2 separate regions of the Homo sapiens genome follow, and region 1 is linked to region 2. The links come from fine-mapping of genetic effects on gene expression. A gene starts in region 2. The other region holds a variant in brackets. All regions are shown on one strand. Distances are between the middles of the regions.

What was found.
Region 1: its variant is fine-mapped to the expression of CERS5 in tibial nerve (GTEx, PIP above 0.99).

The regions. Positions count from the first base shown.
Region 1 is chr12:50,265,663-50,273,991 of GRCh38, reverse strand. The region is part of intron 1 of LIMA1 (LIM domain and actin binding 1); the gene reads left to right. Among named protein-coding and RNA genes, the nearest start is that of LIMA1, 14 kb to the left of the region's middle. RefSeq lists a silencer at 682-861. The variant C/T (reference allele first, on the strand shown) is at 4,389.
Region 2 is chr12:50,163,353-50,171,622 of GRCh38, reverse strand. CERS5 (ceramide synthase 5) reads left to right here and starts at 4,254. Exons shown (of 10, transcript NM_147190.5): 1 at 4,254-4,522. The coding sequence starts at 4,326. It overlaps LOC124902931 (a long non-coding RNA gene), which reads right to left. Exons shown (of 2, transcript XR_007063304.1): 2 at 6,000-6,597. RefSeq lists enhancers at 2,905-3,666, 3,718-3,877, 4,768-4,907 and silencers at 3,978-4,377, 4,478-4,627.

The sequences.
Region 1 (8,329 bases), 100 kb before region 2:
GGATCCAGGCCACTATTTTCCTACCACTATAGCCATCTACTTCCCAGATTGTTACTCTGGATTATACTAGTCTATCAACTCCTATTACATTTTCAAAAGCCAGTGTGGCAAAACTAAAACCCAATTACTGGAATCCACAAACAACCAGAAGTTTTCTTCTGTTTTCATTCTCTAGGAGAAAAATTAGAAAGCTATCTAGAATCTTCAAGAAAAAATGAAATGATTTTCATTATACTTACTATTAACACATGCTCTGAAATGTGTTACTGTTTAGACACACTGTTTAGACAGTGTACTGATTAGAAAGATTTTCAGCAACAGCTTTAAACAAAAGGTTTCTTATTAACATCTAGTTGAACCAGACATTATAATGAATTAGTTCTAATTTCTATTTCTTTTCATTGGTTAGTCTTTTTTAATTCCATTTTTTTTCTTAATGCTGGCTTGAAGTTTTATTTAAAATAATGCTTTGTAGAGTAGCTGACAGTTTTCAAAGTACTTTTGCTTTTATCCTTTCATTTAGTCCTCATAAGCATCCTGTGTGAATCAATACCTGTTTTTGAGATGAAGAAATTGAGGCCCAAAGACAGTGATGATCTTTCCCCTGCCAACTGAAAGACCACTACCCAGCAAATGCCTCTCAATAACTATTTTCTACAGTCCCGAATTAAATGTAGCTTTTAGAAGCTAATCATTAAAATTCAATTGAAACAGTAACATTAATATGTTTATAACCAGGCCAGGTGTGGTGGCTCACGCCTGTAATCCCAGCACTTTAGGAGGCCAAGGCTGGCGGATCACTTGAGGTCAGGAGTTCGAGACCAGCCTGGCTAACATGGCAAAACTCCGTCTCTACTAAAATTACAAAAATTAGCCTGGGAGAGAGAGTAAGGCTCCCTCTTAAAAAAAAATGTTTATAACCAATTCTTTTTTTTTTTTTTTGAGACAGAGTCTTGCTCTGTTGTCCAGGCTAGAGTGCAGTGGTGTGATCTCTGCTCACTGCAAGCTCCACCTCCTGGGTTCACGCCATTCTCCTGCCTTAGCCTCCCGAGTAGCTGGGACTACAGGCGCCCGCCACAACGCCCGGCTAATTTTTTGTATTTTTTTTAGTAGAGAAGGGGTTTCACCATGTTAGCCAGGATGGTCTCGATCTCCTGACCTCGTGATCTGCCTGCCTCGGCCTCCCAAAGTGCTGGGATTACAGGGGTGAACCACCACGCCCGGCCCTATAACCAATTCTTAATAAGATACCTAGCACTGGTCCAGATAAGTAGCCAAATTTTATCACTTGTGTGGCGGTGTGATTTGGTACATCTTTATGTGATCAGCCTCAGTGATGCTTGTCCTTTATTAAGGCATTGTTACGTGGTAGCTGCTCAGATTTTTTTTTTTTTTTTTTGAGACGGAGTTTCGCTCTTGTTGCCCAGGCTGGAATGCAATGGCACGAGCTCGGCTCACTGCAACCTCCACCTCCCGGGTTCAAGCAATTCTCCTGCCTCAGCCTCCCGAGTAGCTGGAATTACAGGCATGCACCACCATGCCTGGCTAATTTTTTTGTATTTTTGGTACAGACGGCGTTTCTCCATGTTGGTCAGGCTGATCTCGAACTCCCGACCTCAGGTGATCCGCCCGCCTCGGTCTCCCAAAGTGCTGGGATTATAGGAATGAGCCACCGTGCCCGGCCAGCTTCTCTTTTAAAGAAAGGAAGGATTAAAGAACTTGCCTAGAGAAGAGTCACTTTTTAGTAAATCCATTTTAATTCTCCTGCTTGAAGGTATTGGTTAAACTGATCTGAACTGACTCTTCAGATTGAGCAAGTCCTGAAAAACAGCACATCATCTAAAATTTCAGATAAGAATGGAAGCCAGGCCCTTCCTGGAAATGTCCAGAAGTGAAACTAAGAAGCCCTGTATTTGGAGAAAACTTGATTAGTTATTAAGGACAAAGGGCTGCTTTAAGAAGGTTATATCTTTAACAGAAGGAGCCTTCCTAAAATAAGCGTATGTGTTTCTTTTGCTTTGAGATTGTAAAGAAGGCTCCTTAATGAACTATTTTGCCTTAATTAAGCATGTAATTGGCAAGACTTATGAGCATGTAGTTTCTCGGCAGATTTTCAGTTATGTAGGTGGGCCTTTGCTGAGATGTGTGGCAATTCAGTACTAGTGTAACACTGTTTTTCATTCATATAACAGATATTTATTGAGCCCCTACATGTTCCAGGCACTGGTATTCAGTACATCTGATGTTAAAGTATGGAAAGGTACAAAGGTTAAAGGAGAAATATGCTGTTCAGAGGAAGTCTGTGCTTTGTCGTGATGGTCTTGGTCAATTGTAAATTTCCACATTCTTTTTCTAATTAGCTATGTTTTTCTCTACTCTTTACCTTAAATTTGAAGCTAGTGACTTAATGATCTGTTTTTCTACTTACTGAAAGAGATTTTTCTTACTATGTGTGAAAAAAAACTACTGGAAAAATAAGAAAACCTCACTTCGTTGGATTATGTTTGCCCTTAGAATAAGTTAATGATCAGCTGGGACGGGGAGGGAAAGAACCAAATGAGCAAATAACAAATTTTATTAATTGGGAGAGAGGTGGAGTTAGACTTGAATTTGATCTGGTAATTTTTTAATTTAAAGGGAAAAAAAAAAGATTAGGAAAGTTCTTGGGTGGTTCTTCATGACCTACAAATTTTAGACCAAAGTCAGTTGTTTTTGTTTTTCAAGATAGAGTCTTGCCCTGTCGCCGAGGCTGGAGTGCAGTGGCATAGTCACGGCTCACTGCAGCCTCAAACTCCTGGGCTCAAGTGATCCTCCCACCTTAGCCTCCCAAAGTGCTGGGATTACAGGCGTAAGCCACAGCACCTGGCCCAAAGTCAGTTTTTTGTTTGTTTGTTTGTTTTGAGACGGAGTCTCGCTCTGTCGCCCAGGCTGGAGTGCAGTGGCACGATCTCGGCTCACTGCAAGCTCCGCCTCCTGGGTTCATGCCATTCTCCTGCCTCAGCCTCCCGAGTAATTGGGACCATAGGCACCCGCCACCACGCCCGGCTAATTTTTTGTGTTTTTAGTAGAGACGGGGTTTCACTGTGTTAGCCAGGATGGTCTTGATCTCCTGACCTCGTCATCCGCCCACCTCGGCCTCCCAAAGTGCTGGGATTACAGGTGCCCAAAGTCAGTTTTCAAAGGCTGTAACTGGGGTTACTCTTTTTTACCTGTCTAAATAAGATATGTGAAGATTACCACAATTATGTAAAAAACTAATTTGGGGTTCATAAGCACAAGAAGATAAGATATTCACACAAATGAATAAGGTAATAGAAGCCCTGTGGGAAGGTTATAGTTATGTTCTCTTCAACATAGAGTTCTTTTTTTTTTTTTTTTTTTTTTTTTGAGATAAGGTCTCACTCTGTTGCCCAGGCTGGAGTGCAGTGGCGTGATCTGGATTCACTGCAACCTCCACCTCCAAGGCTGAAGCAATCCTCCCACCTCAGCCTTCTGAGTAGCTGGGATTACAGGCTCAAGCCACCACACCTGGCTAACTTATTTGTTTGTACTTTTTGTAGAGATGGGGTTTTGCCATTTTTCCCAGGCTGGTCTTGAACTCCTGAACTCAAGCAATCTATCCTCCTTGGTCTCCCAGAGTGCTGGGATTACAGGCGTGAGCCACTGTGCCTGGCCCAACTTAGAGTTCTTACAGAGGTGTTGATGCGTTGATAACACCTAAAATTTTATCCCTTTTTTTTTTTTTTTTTTTTTTTTTTGACAGAGTTTCACTCTTGTTGCCCAGGCTAGAGTACAATGGCGCGATCTCGGCTCATCGCAACTTCTGCCACCCGGGTTCAAGAGATTCTCCTGCCTCAGCCTTCCCGAGTAGCTGGAATTACAGGCACGTGCTACCACACCTGGCTAATTTTGTATTTTTAGTAGAGACGGGGTTTCTCCACGTTGGTCAGGCTGGTCTTGAACTCCCGACCTCAGGTGATCCGCCCACCTCGGCCTCCCAGAGTGCTGAGATTACAGTCATAAGCCACCGTGCCTAGCCTTTTTAAATTTTTTTTTTTTTTTTTTTTTTATTTGACGGAGTTTTGCTCTTGTTGCCCAGGTTGGAGTGCAATGGTGTGATCTCAGTTCACTGCAACCCCCGCCTCCCAGGTTCAAGCGATTCTCTTGCCTTAGCCTCCCAAGTAGTTGGGATTACAGACATGTGCCACCACACCCGGCTAATTTTTTGTATTTTTAGTAGAGACGGGGTTTCTCCATGTTGGTCAGCTGGTCTCAAACTTGTGACCTCAGGTGATCCTCCCGCCTCGGCCTCCCAAAGTGCTGAGATTACAGGCATGAGCCACTGCGCCCGCTCCTAAAATTTTATCCTTAAGAGAGATAACTTTTAC[C/T]GATTTAGACTTTATGGTGCAGAGAAATGGTGTCAGGTCTTTGATCAGATCTGGTGTTCCTGGTAGTAACCATCAGTTTCTCAGATATTATTACATTAGAGATATTCTCTTTTTATTGGTGATTTAACAGAAATAAGCTGACCCTGAAATATCATGTACGCTAGAACTGCTTTTCTGGTTTATTTTCCGTGCTGCAGATCATTTTGTTTCCAGGCCAACCTCCTAAAAAATGAAAAGAGCTAACATTTATTTAACTTCTTTGGGCCTCAGTTTCTTCATCTGAATATTATTCAATAATACACTTACATAAAGTGAGTCGGTAATAATTCTGAGTGTGTTACTGTGAAGATTAAATAAGTTATATATGCAAAACAATTAAGACAGTATCTGACACATGGTAAATGGTCAATAAATGTTAGGTATTTTTATTACCACCACTGCTATCATTATTAAGTACTTATTTTAGCAATGTGCTAAGAGAACATTTTAGTGATGATGAAACTAAGGCTTAGAGTAATTTTCCTCATGTTACCCAGTAAGTGTGTGGTAGACTCAATATGTAGACTTGAGCCAAAAGGAGCCTTGGGTAGAGTTGGCTTAGATGTGGAATAGGCTGGGGCATCTGGCCCAGCCTTTAATATTCCTAGTTTCAAGACTCTTAAAGGATAAGACCGGTCCAGACAGCCCCTAAATACCGGGAAGATGTGGTTTGTAATATGTCATTAGAACATGGACATTATGGTCTGTGGGATTGTTTCAAATCCTAGCTCTATCAGTTATTAGCTCTGTGACCTTGAGCAAGTTATTGAACATTTCTAGAGCCTTAGTTTCTTCCTCTGTAAAATGAGAATAATAAATATTTGCTGACCCAGTGTGGTGGCTCATGCCTATAATCCCAGCACTTTGGGAGGCCAAGGTGGGAGGATCGCTTGAGCCCAGGAGTTCAAGACGAGCCTGGGCAACATAGCAAGACCCTGTCTCTTACAATAATAATAATAATAATAATAATTGCTTCATGGCAGTGTAAGAATTAAGTGAATAAGATCAAATGGAATGAGATAACATGTAAAGCACCTGGCATATGGCCAGTACTCAATAACCAATCCTCAGGCTTATGCTTAAGGGGTTCAAACTTGTACCTGATTCTGACATTATCTGTCTAGATGGTGAGCGTTTAGGGTCTGGGTCTGCAAAAATTAACATGTTTGGACTCCATATGAGAGGTTCAGATTCCATAGGTGATCCTGATACTCAGAGTACCACCCTTATCTGAAAGCACTAGACTGGGTGGTGGAGGGTAGCAGCAGTGATCCTCTCTCAATGCCTGGGCTGTCAGTGTCCGTCAGGCTTCTTACAGGGTTGTGCTCTGCTTAGAATATTAATGAGCAGTCAGGGGTGGGTGTCCTGCAAAAGGGAACCCCGCAGAAACGAGGCACTCATCTGTATAGTCAAGCGGCATTTTTGTTTGGAAAGAATATTAATGAGATCTGGATAAGAATCAGACACCAGGAAAGGACAGCTGCTGTGAGAGGCAAATCCAATTGTACAAGGAGTTACACATGATATTCAGAAAGTCCTTGTATAATTTAAAAAAAAGTAAGTTGTAGAGATAATAAACAATTTATAAATGTCGTTAAAAAAATAAATGTGGCCGGGCACGGTGGCTTACACCTGTAACCCCAGCAGTTAGGGAGGCAGAAGTGAGAGATAGGTTGAGGCTAGGAGTTTGAGGCCAGCCTGGGCAACATAGTGAGACCTCATTCTTCACCAAAAGAAAAAATAGGCAGGCTGGGTGTGGTGGCTCATGCCTGTAATCCCAGCACTTTGGGAGGCCGAGGCAGGTGGATCACAAGGTCAAGAGATCAAAACCATCCTGGCCAACATGGTGAAACCCCGCCTCTACTAAAAATACAAAAATTCACTGGGTGTGGTGGCATGCACCTGTAGTCCCAACTACTCAGGAGGCTGAGGCAGGAGAATTGCTTGAACCCAGGAAGTGGAGGTTGTAGTGAGCCAAAATTGCACCACTGCACTCCAGCCTGGCGACAGAGCGAGACTCTGTCTCAAAAAAAAAAAGTAAATGTGGCCAGGGGGCACGGTGATTCACACCTGTAATCCCAGCACTTTGGGAGGCCAAGGAGGGTGGATCATCTGAGGTCAGAAGTTCGAGACCAGCCTGGCCAACATGGTGAAACCCTATCTCTAAAAAAAAATACAAAAATTAGCTGGGCGTGACCGGGTGCGGTGGCTCACGTCTGTAATCCCAGCACTTTGGGAGGCCAAGGCAGGTGGATCACGAGGTCAGCAGATCGAGACCATCCTGGCTAACACGGTGAAACCCCATCTCTACTAAAAATACATATAAAATTAGCCGGACATTGTGGGGGATGCCTGTAGTCCCAGCTACTTGGGAGGCTGAGGCAGAAGAATGGCGTGAACCCGGGAGATGGAGCTTGCAGTGAGCCGAGATTGCGCAACTGCACTCCAGCCTGGGCGACAGAGCTAGACTCCGTCTCAAAAAATAATAATAAAAATAAAAAAATTAGCTGGGCATGGTGGCACGCCCCGGTAATCCCAGCTACTCAGGAGGCTAAGGCAGGAGAATCACTGGAACCCAGGAGGCAGAGGCTGCAGTGAGCCAAGATCAGGCCACTGCACTCCAGCCTGGGTGACAGAGTGAGACTCTGTCTCAGAATAAAAAAAAAGTAAATGTATTGAGTGGCCAACACATATTTGAAAATATGCTCAACCTCACTCATGATTAAAGGAGTGAAAACTAAAACAATAATGTACCATTTTCACACATCTATCAGATTGGAAAAAATAAAAATAATGCTTATTACTGACAAGAATGTGGAGAAAGATTCAAATATAAATGGATGTGACTTTTTTGAGGGAAATCTCAGAATATCTATTTAAAAATTTAATGCATAGGCCTTTTAAACTAGAAATGCTCCTTCTAGGAATTTATGCCGTAGATGCACCCCGCCCCAGGTAGGCAATAGTACAAGCATGTTTGTTCCATTCTTATTCATAACAGTGAAGAAGCAAAAGCAACCTACATGATCATCCACAGGGGCCTTGTTAAATAGGTTTTAAACTATTACAGAATGAAATATTATGAGGTACTGAAAGATTGAGATAGATCTGTATGCCCTGAGGTGGGAAGATGTTCAAGAGGAAATAAATAATTGCTGAACAGCACATTAACATGAAACCATTGTATTTCTAAAACATGTTTGTATTTATGCATGTTGTGTGTCAATTTCTCTGTGCCTCAGTTTTCTCATCTGTAAAATAGGCATCCTGATGGTACCTACCTCATGACTTGTTGCAAGGGTAAACTGAGATAACATATGTAGAGTGCTTAGTACAGTGACTGACACATAGTGCTTTGTGGTGGCAATTATTATTGTATAGGTAATAACAGAAAGTTTATGCTCCAGACTTTGACAGAGGTTACCTTTGAGAAGTAGAATTGGTTTGGGGGGAGGGCAGACAAGAGCTGGCAGGGACTTCTACTTCTTACATTGTGTATTTCCATAGCATTGTTTATATGGAGCAGGCCCATCCCTGGCCAGTCACTGACCGAGGAGCCTAGACAGTGAAGGAAGTGGCAGCTCTGTAGGCTCAACAAGTAGGCTTGTTGAGACCTGCAGAAGAAGGTTCCCCATGGGAAGGAGGAGGATAAGGAAGGGTGGTGCTGTGTGGAGATGGGAAGGATGTTTGTGGATTCCACCATGGCTACTGAAGTTTTTTTTTTGAAAACCACCTGACCTAATTAAAGATTTAAAAAATTTACATTGCACAAGAACCTTACAAAGCCCAGCTTGTATTTGGACTTATCCTTTTTATAATTCACTAAGTTATATTTATACTAAAAAAGTGATTTGTGTTTAATTTGACTTTTGAATAAAAACTACAGAAAATAATTGGTCAAA
Region 2 (8,270 bases):
AAGTCAGGAGATTGAGACCATCCTGCTAATACAGTGAAACCCCGTCTCTACTAAAAATACAAAAAAATTAGCCGGGTGTGGTGGCGGGCGCCTGTAGTCCCAGCTACTAGGGAGGCTGAGGCAGGAGAATGGCGTGAACCTGGAAGGCGGAGCTTGCAGTGAGCCGAGATCGCGCCACTGCTCTCCAGCCTGGGCGACAGAGCTAGACTCCGTCTCAAAAAAAAAAAAAAAAAAAAAAAAAATTCGGCCGGGCGTGGTGGCTCAAGCCTGTAATCCCAGCCATTTGCGAGGCCCAGGCGGGTGGATCACTTGGGTCAGGAGTTCCATGGCCAACATAGCGAAACACAATCTCTACTAAAAATACAAAAATTAGCAGGGCATGGTGGAGCCTGCCTGTAATCCTAGCTACTCGGGAGGCTGAGGGGAGAGAATAGCTTGAATCCAGGAGACGGAGGCTGAAGTGAGCCGAGATCCCGCCAGTGCACTCCAGCCTGGGCTACAGACCGAGACTCCGTTTCAAAAAAAAAAAAAAAAAAGCCGGGCGCGGTGGCTCACGCCTGTAATCCCAGCACTTTGGGAGGCCGAGGCGGGCGGATCACGAGGTCAGGAGATCGAGACCATCCCGGCTAAAACGGTGAAACCCTGTCTCTACTAAAAATACAAAAAATTAGCCGGGCGTAGTGGCGGGCGCCTGTAGTCCCAGCTACTTGGGAGGCTGAGGCAGGAGAATGGCGTGAACCCGGGAGGTGGAGCTTGCAGTGAGCTGAGATCCCGCCACTGCACTCCAGCCTGGGCGACAGAGCGAGACTCCGTCTCAAAAAAAAACAAAAAACAAAAAACAAAACAAAACAAACAAACAAAAAAAACACTTTAGGCTGGGCGGAGTGGCCTCACGCCTGTAGTCCCAGCACTTTGGGAGTGTGAGAAATCGGAAAGTTCTTCAAAGATTATAAAAAGTCACAATTTCTTACTATAAGATTGCTATCCACTGTGTGTGTGTGTGTGTGTGTATGTATGTGTGTGTGTGTGTGTGTGTGTGTGTGTGTGTGTGTGTGTATTCCAAATCAGCTGTCCTAGATTGCTCCTGCATGCCTGGACAGAACTAGACAAGCCCCAGCCCACAGTGCATGCCATTCCTTATTTGGTGATGCTTCCTTAATGATCCCTGGGCAACTTCCTTTTCTTTCTTTGTTCTGTTCCCCTTAACCAATTTTAAAAGTTTTAAACTAATAGCCAATCAGGTAAAGTGTAAAATGTGAGGTCCTATTCCAGCCAATGGAAAATGGACACAGCAGTAGGGTAGACACCTCAGATTATAAATAACTCTGTCTCCTTTGTTCGGTGTGCTCTCATGGCTAGACAGCTTTTGAGTAGCAGCACCCTTTCTGCAGAAAGTAAAGCTCTCCTTGCTGAGAGATCATTTGTTCCCGTGTTTTTTTGTTTTTGTTTTGTTTTCTTTTCTTTTCTTTTTGCAACACCAAAAACTTCATTCCCAACAGGGATACTGAGACAGGCAGATCACTTGAAGTCAGGAGTTCGAGACCAGCCTGGCCAACATGGTGAAACCCCAGGCTCTATCAAAAAATACAAAAATTAGTCGGGTGTGGTGGCACGTGTCTGTAGTCCCAGCTACTCGGGAGGCTGAGAAGGGAGGATCTCTTGAACCCAGAGGTGGAGGTTGCAGTGAGCAGAAATGGCACCACTGCGCTCCAGCCTGGGTGTGAGACTCCTTCTCACAAAAAAACATGCAAACAAACAAAACAGCCAAATTTAAAGGAGTTTTTTGTTTGTTTGTTTGTTTTGTTTTTTCTTTCCAAGACAAAGTCTCACTCCGTTGCCCAGGATAGAGTGCAGTGGTGCTATCTCAGCTCACTGCAACCTCCGCCTCCTGGGTTCAAGCGATTCTCTTGCCTCAGCTTCCCAAGTAACTGGGACTACAGACACGCACCACCACGCCCAGCTAATTTTTGTATTTTTAGTAGAGACGGAGTTTCACCATGTTAGCCAGGATGGTCTCGATCTCCTGACCTGTGATCCGCCTGCCTCGGCCTCCCAAAGTGCTAGGATTACAGGCGTGAGCCACCGTGCCCAGCCTAAAGGAGTTTGAGCAATGTATGATTCTCAAATTGGGCAGCCCCTGAATCACAGCAGATTCAGAGAGACCCAGCATATCCACAGAGACCCAGCATATTCACGTGGTGGAAGATTTATGGACAGCAAAATGAAAGTGAGGTACAGAAACAACCAGATTGGTTACAGATCAGCGTTTGTCTCATTTGAACGTGGTTGGAACAGTTGGCTACATTTGATTGGCCAAAATTCAGTGATTGGCACTGGTGTGGTCTACGTTCGATTTACACCTCCACTTGTTACAGTTCACAATGTACAGAAAACCTTTAGGCCGAACTTAAATATGTAAGGAGGCAGCTTTAGATTAAACTTGACTTAACACTAGCTACCACTTCTTACCTACATAACTTTGGGCAAGTTGTTTGGCCTCACTGGACCTCAGTTTACTTATCCAGTGGGGATAACAAGATCAACTTTATAGGGTGAAGGAGTGAAATAACCTGTGTAAAATGTTCCATGCAGTGCCTGGCACACAGGAAACCTCATCAAACATTGGCTATTTATTTTGTTTTGCCTTTAGGTCCTTTAGATATACTTTTTTTTTTTTTTTTTTTGAGACGAGTCTCACTTTGTCGCCCAGGCTGGAGTGTAGTGGCGCAATCTGGGCTCACTGCAAGCTCCGCCTCCCGGGTTCACGCCATTCTCCTGCCTGAGCCTCCCAAGTAGCTGGGACTACAGGCGCCCGCCACCATGCCTGGCTAATTTTTTGTATTTTAATAGAGATGGGGTTTCACCGTGTTAGCCAGGATGGTCTCGATCTCCTGACCTCATGATCCGCCCGCCTCGGCCTCCCAAAGTGTTGGGATTACAGGCGTGAGCCGCGCCCGGCCTTTTTTTGTTTGTTTTTGTTTTGAGACGCTCTGTTGCCTAGGCTGGAGGGCAATGGCGTGGTCTCGGCTCACTGTGATCTCCGCCTCAAGCAATTCTCCTGCCTCAGCCTCCCGAGTAGCTAGGATTACAGGCATGCACCACCACACCCGGGTAATTTTTGTATTTTTAGTAGGGACGGGGTTTCACCATGGCCAGCCTGGTCTCGAACTCCTTACCTCAGGTGATTCTTCCGCCTTGGCCTTCCAACGTGCTGGGATTACAGGCGTGAGCCACCACACCCGGCCTGCCTTTACGTATACTTTTTGAGTGCTTCCCTTTTCACTTTGTTTTTCTTCCATTTCCTTTTCCCCAAGAGAAGAATAAAAGGATTTTTGTAAACTTTTTTTATTTTTATTTTGGGACGGAGTCTTTGGTCTGTCGCCCAGGCTGGAGTGCAATGGCGCGATTTCGGCTCACTGCGACCTCCGCCTCCCAGGTTCAAGCGATTCTCCTGTCCCAGCTTTCCGAGTAGCTGGGATTACAGGCACAGCGCCACCAGGCCCAGCTAATTTTTGTATTTTTAGTAGAGACGGGGTTTTGCCATGTTGGCCAGGCTGGTCTCGAACTCCTGACCTCAGGTGATCCGCCAGCCTCGGCCTCTGAAAGTGCTGGGATTACAGGCGTGAGCCACCGCGCCCGGCCTTTTGTAAACTGTTAAGTCCATTTTTTCTGAGGAAAAGTGACTAATTTTTAAGGGATAAAGCAGTGAAAGTAGGCTGAGGTCACGGGGCACGAAGGGAAGAAAAGGTTGGGAGCGAAAAGAACTCTAGTGGCGGACAGTAGTGGGCAGGACCAGCTGACATCCAAGAGAAGCCCTGACCTGAGAGATCGATCTGGCCTCCGGGAGTGGAGACAGAGGTACCGCCTGGGTGGGAGCCGGAACGGATTCGATTCCAACAGGCTGAGAAAGGAGAATGTCCCCGTAAAGGAGCTAGGCCTGAAATAAGGGGTGTGGCCGTAGCTGGATGGAAGAGTGAGGGAGGAGTAGAAGCGTGGCCTAGACCAGCAGCAAAAGAGGGCGGGCCCAGGGCCGCCCGAGGCGTGGTCCCAGGGCCGGGCTGGGCGAGTCAGAGGCTCGGGAAGGGGCGTGGATCCCCGGAGGCGGTCCCCGGGTTGCAGTGAGGGAAGTGGGCCGGGAGGAGAGATGGGCGGTGAAGAGGCCCGGCCCTGCCAGGGAGGCGGGCGGATCCGTGGCAGTGACCAGAAGGGGCCGGAAGGGGGTGGCCGCCGGCCGGGCCCCGCCCTGGGGCCGCCTCCCCGCGGGTTCCGTTGGCTGTGGCGGCAGCTGACGCTTGTGGCGGCGGTGGCTTCGGGGTGGGCGTAAGATGGCGACAGCAGCGCAGGGACCCCTAAGCTTGCTGTGGGGCTGGCTGTGGAGCGAGCGCTTCTGGCTACCCGAGAACGTGAGCTGGGCTGATCTGGAGGGGCCGGCCGACGGCTACGGTTACCCCCGCGGCCGGCACATCCTCTCGGTGTTCCCGCTGGCGGCGGGCATCTTCTTCGTGAGGCTGCTCTTCGAGCGGTGAGAGCCCGGGAGCGAGCGGCTCGGGGGCCGGGCGCGGGCCGGGGGCGCCCCGCTGTGGGAAGGGCCGAGGGCCGGAAGCAGAACTGCAAGGAAAGCCCGGAAGCAGGGGCTGGGGGAGCTTGGGCCGCGGCGGGTGATGCTAGGCGCGTGGGCGAGGTGGTAGCCTAGATGGAGAAGGAGTTTGGGGCGTGGGCAAGAGAAAGAGTGAGGGTCTAGGGGAATGCTGGGCCCCTTCAATGTTAGATCCGGAGTTGGATTGGGGGGGTCATATAGGCCTCCTCCCAACCTCCAAGGGTCCTACAGATGAGGAAACAGGTTCAGTGTGAGCTCTGGCAGAGGCCCCGAAGAGAGGGATAGGAAGGGGCCAGGAGAACCAGAGCTAGTTGTGACCATGGAAGCCGAGGGGTCAACGCAAGGGCCAGACGTTCCAAGGGAAAGGAATGGACTCATCAGACTCTTAAGATTTGTTAGGACGCTTGAGTTTCCGAGAATTGGGGGGAACAGGATTAGTTTGGCCCTAAGAGTTGGTTTGGTATGTCAACTCATGCACGTTTGTTGGTAGGAGGGTAGAAATCTGGTTGGGATAGGGTGTGGTGGAGCCCTAGGCTTCCAAAGTAATGGAAAGATGTCAGATTAGTTGCAGAACAGGCCTTGGGGCCTGAAATGGAAGGAGGAGTGTGTTCGAAGGGATGGAGGAGAGCCACAGGGCTTTATCAGAGGACAGCTATATTGAGCCAGATTCTTTTTTCTTTTCTTTTTTTTTTTTTTTTTTTTGAGACAGAGTTTCGCTCTTGTTGCCCAGGCTGGCGTGCAATGGCACGATCTCGGCTTACCGCGACCTCCGCCTCCCCTGTTGAAGCGATTCTCCTGCCTCAGCCTCCCGAGTAGCTGGAATTACAGGCACGCGCCACCACGCCCGGCTACTTTTTGTATTTTTAGTAGAGACGGGGTTTCGCCATGTTGGCCAGGCTGGTCTGTAACTCCTGACCTCAAGTGATCCGCCCGCCTCTGCCTCCCAAAGTGCTGGGATTACAGGCGTGAGCCACCGCACCCGGCCTTGAGCCAGCTTCTAAATGAGTTTAGCAGAATTGCAGTATACTTTGTTCAACCACATGATTTCACCTTTAAGTGAATGGATCATATGTTTGTCCAAGATAAAGATATTCACTGAGGCTTTGGTGTGTGATATTATAATGTGAATTTATACCTGTGGGTGATTTTGATCAAGTCTACTCAGACTCCAAGAAAGGAGACATGTTTCTGCCATAGGCCTCAGGTAATGAGGGTGGTTCTTGGACATCTGTTCGTTTTGCCTTTATCCAAGCATAAATGATTGTAATGCAGGAATGCCCTTTCTAGGATGGGAATATGTTGCAGGTGAAATAATCTGTTAATTTCTGAAAGATAGCATCTGTTTGGGATTGCTTCTTTGATTTGCCTACTGTTTTTGACTCAAGTCTTTCAAAATCTTGTGTTCTATTTAGCTAGTCACGCATCCATTTATTCGTAGTATTTGTGCATCATCATCATCAAAATGCTCTGCCAGACGTTCAAGTGCAAAAATAAAGATGCTTAAGTGAAGCAAATGAAACCCAAAGATCTAAATGGCTTTCCTTGGCCCTCAGGAACTTAGTGTAGCAAGGTTTTTTTTTTTTTCTTTTTCTTTTTCTTTTTTTTTTGAGACGGAGTCTCGCTCTGTCGCCCAGGCTGGAGTGCAGTGGCGCGATCTCAGCTCACTGCAAGCTCCGCCTCTCGGGTTCACGCCATTCTCCTGCTTCAGTCTCCCGAGTAGCTGAAACTACAGGCGCCCGCCACCATGTCCGGCTAATTTTTTGTATTTTTAGTAGAGACGGGGATTCACCGTCTTAGCCAGGAAGGTCTCGATCTCCTGACCTCGTAATACGCCTGCCTCGGCCTCCCAAAGTGCTGGGATTACAAGCGTGAACCGCCGCGCCCGGCCTTGTTTTGTCTTTTTACGTGTAATCGTTGTAGTTAGTCATCCTGGAGTGGAGGCACAAACTGCTTGTCTGTCTTTGGAATAAACTAGATCCAGGTACTCTCTTCCATAGTCTCTGTATATGAGGGCCAAAAAAAAAAAGGAGGAAGGCAATGTAATCACTACAAAGGAAAATACACAAGTCAGGACAAATTTTTTTTTAAAAGGTGATTTTCATAGAAAAACATCTCTGCTTTTCATATAAATATGTGCCAATATGGAAATTTCCCCATGTTAGTGGTAAGAGGAAATAGTTTTGTTGCTTATAAACACCCATTTTATATAAACTTACGTATCTCTTGAGATTCCAAAGTGTTCCCTCAGATGGCTGAAGACATATATCCCCTGGCAGAGCTGCTGGAAGGGATCCTTTACCTGTGGGAATTCTATCTGAGTGTTTCTATGGTGCTCCAGTGTCAGAGGAGTACAGGTGGATGGGAATACTGAGCTGAAAGCATTCTAGTATGATAATTCTTGGCTAGTAAAGACAGGCACCTTGTTTGTCTCATGTTTGCTCTTAGGAAAGTTTAACCCTAGAAGCACTCTTGCTATTTTGTTTCTTTTAAGACCCATTACCTCAGTAATATAATTCACTGCTGACTTGCCAATTCCTCTTTTACCGTTCTGGTCTTCCATAAAGAAAATAGACCACTCCACTCTTATTGTTGTTTTTGAGACAGGGTCTCAGCCTCACCCAGGCTGGACTGCAGTGGCACGAAGCTCACTCCAGCCTCGACCTCTTTGGCTCAAGCAATCCTCCTACCTCAGCCTCCCAAGTAGCCAGGACCATAGGTGCACACCACTATGCCCAGCTAATTAAAAAAAAAAAAAAAAATTGGGAGAGCGGGGCATGGTGGCTCACACCTGTAATCCCAGCACTTTGGGAGGCCGAGGCAGGGAGATCACTTGAGGCCAGGAGTTCGAGACCAGCCTGGCCAACATGGTGAAACCCCATCTCTACTAAAAATATAAAAATTAGCTGGGCATAGTGGTACATGCCTGTAATCCCAGCTACTCAGGAGGCTGAGGCATGAGAATTGCTTGAGTTGGAGAGGCAGAGGTTGCAGTGAGCCAAGATCACACTGTTGCACTCCAGCCTGGGCTGCAGAGGAAAACTCTGTCTCAAAAAAAAAAAAAAAAATTGTAGAGGCTGGGCATGGTGGCTCATGCCTGTAATCCCAGCACTTTGGGAGGCCGAGGAGGGCAGATCACTTGAGCCTAGGAGTTTGAGACCAGCCTTGGCAACATGGTGAAACCTTGTCTCTACAAAAAAATTTAAAAATTAGCTGGGTGTGATGGTGCATGCCTATAGTCTCTAGTCTCATCTACTTGGGAGGCTGAGGCAGGAGGATTGCTTGAACCCGGGAGGTTGAGACTGCAGTGAGCCGTGATCAAACCACTGTACTTCAGCCTGGGTGATAGAGTGAGACCCTGTCTCAGAAAAATAAATAAAATAAATTTTTGTAGAGGCCTGAGCTCCTGGCCTCAAGCGATCCTGCTGCCTCAGCTTCCCAAAGTTTTGGGATTACTGGCATGAGCCACTGCCCCTGGCCTAGAGCCACTTGTAGAATGCAATAGAAGGCATATCAAAAATATCGGGGCATGGCCTTGCATGCTGGCTCACACCTGTAATCCCAGCACTTTGGGAGGCCGAGGCAGGCAGATCACTTGAGGTCAGGAGTTTGAGACCAGCCTGGCTAACAACATGAAATCTCATCTCTACTAAAAATACAAAAATAGCCCCGCGTA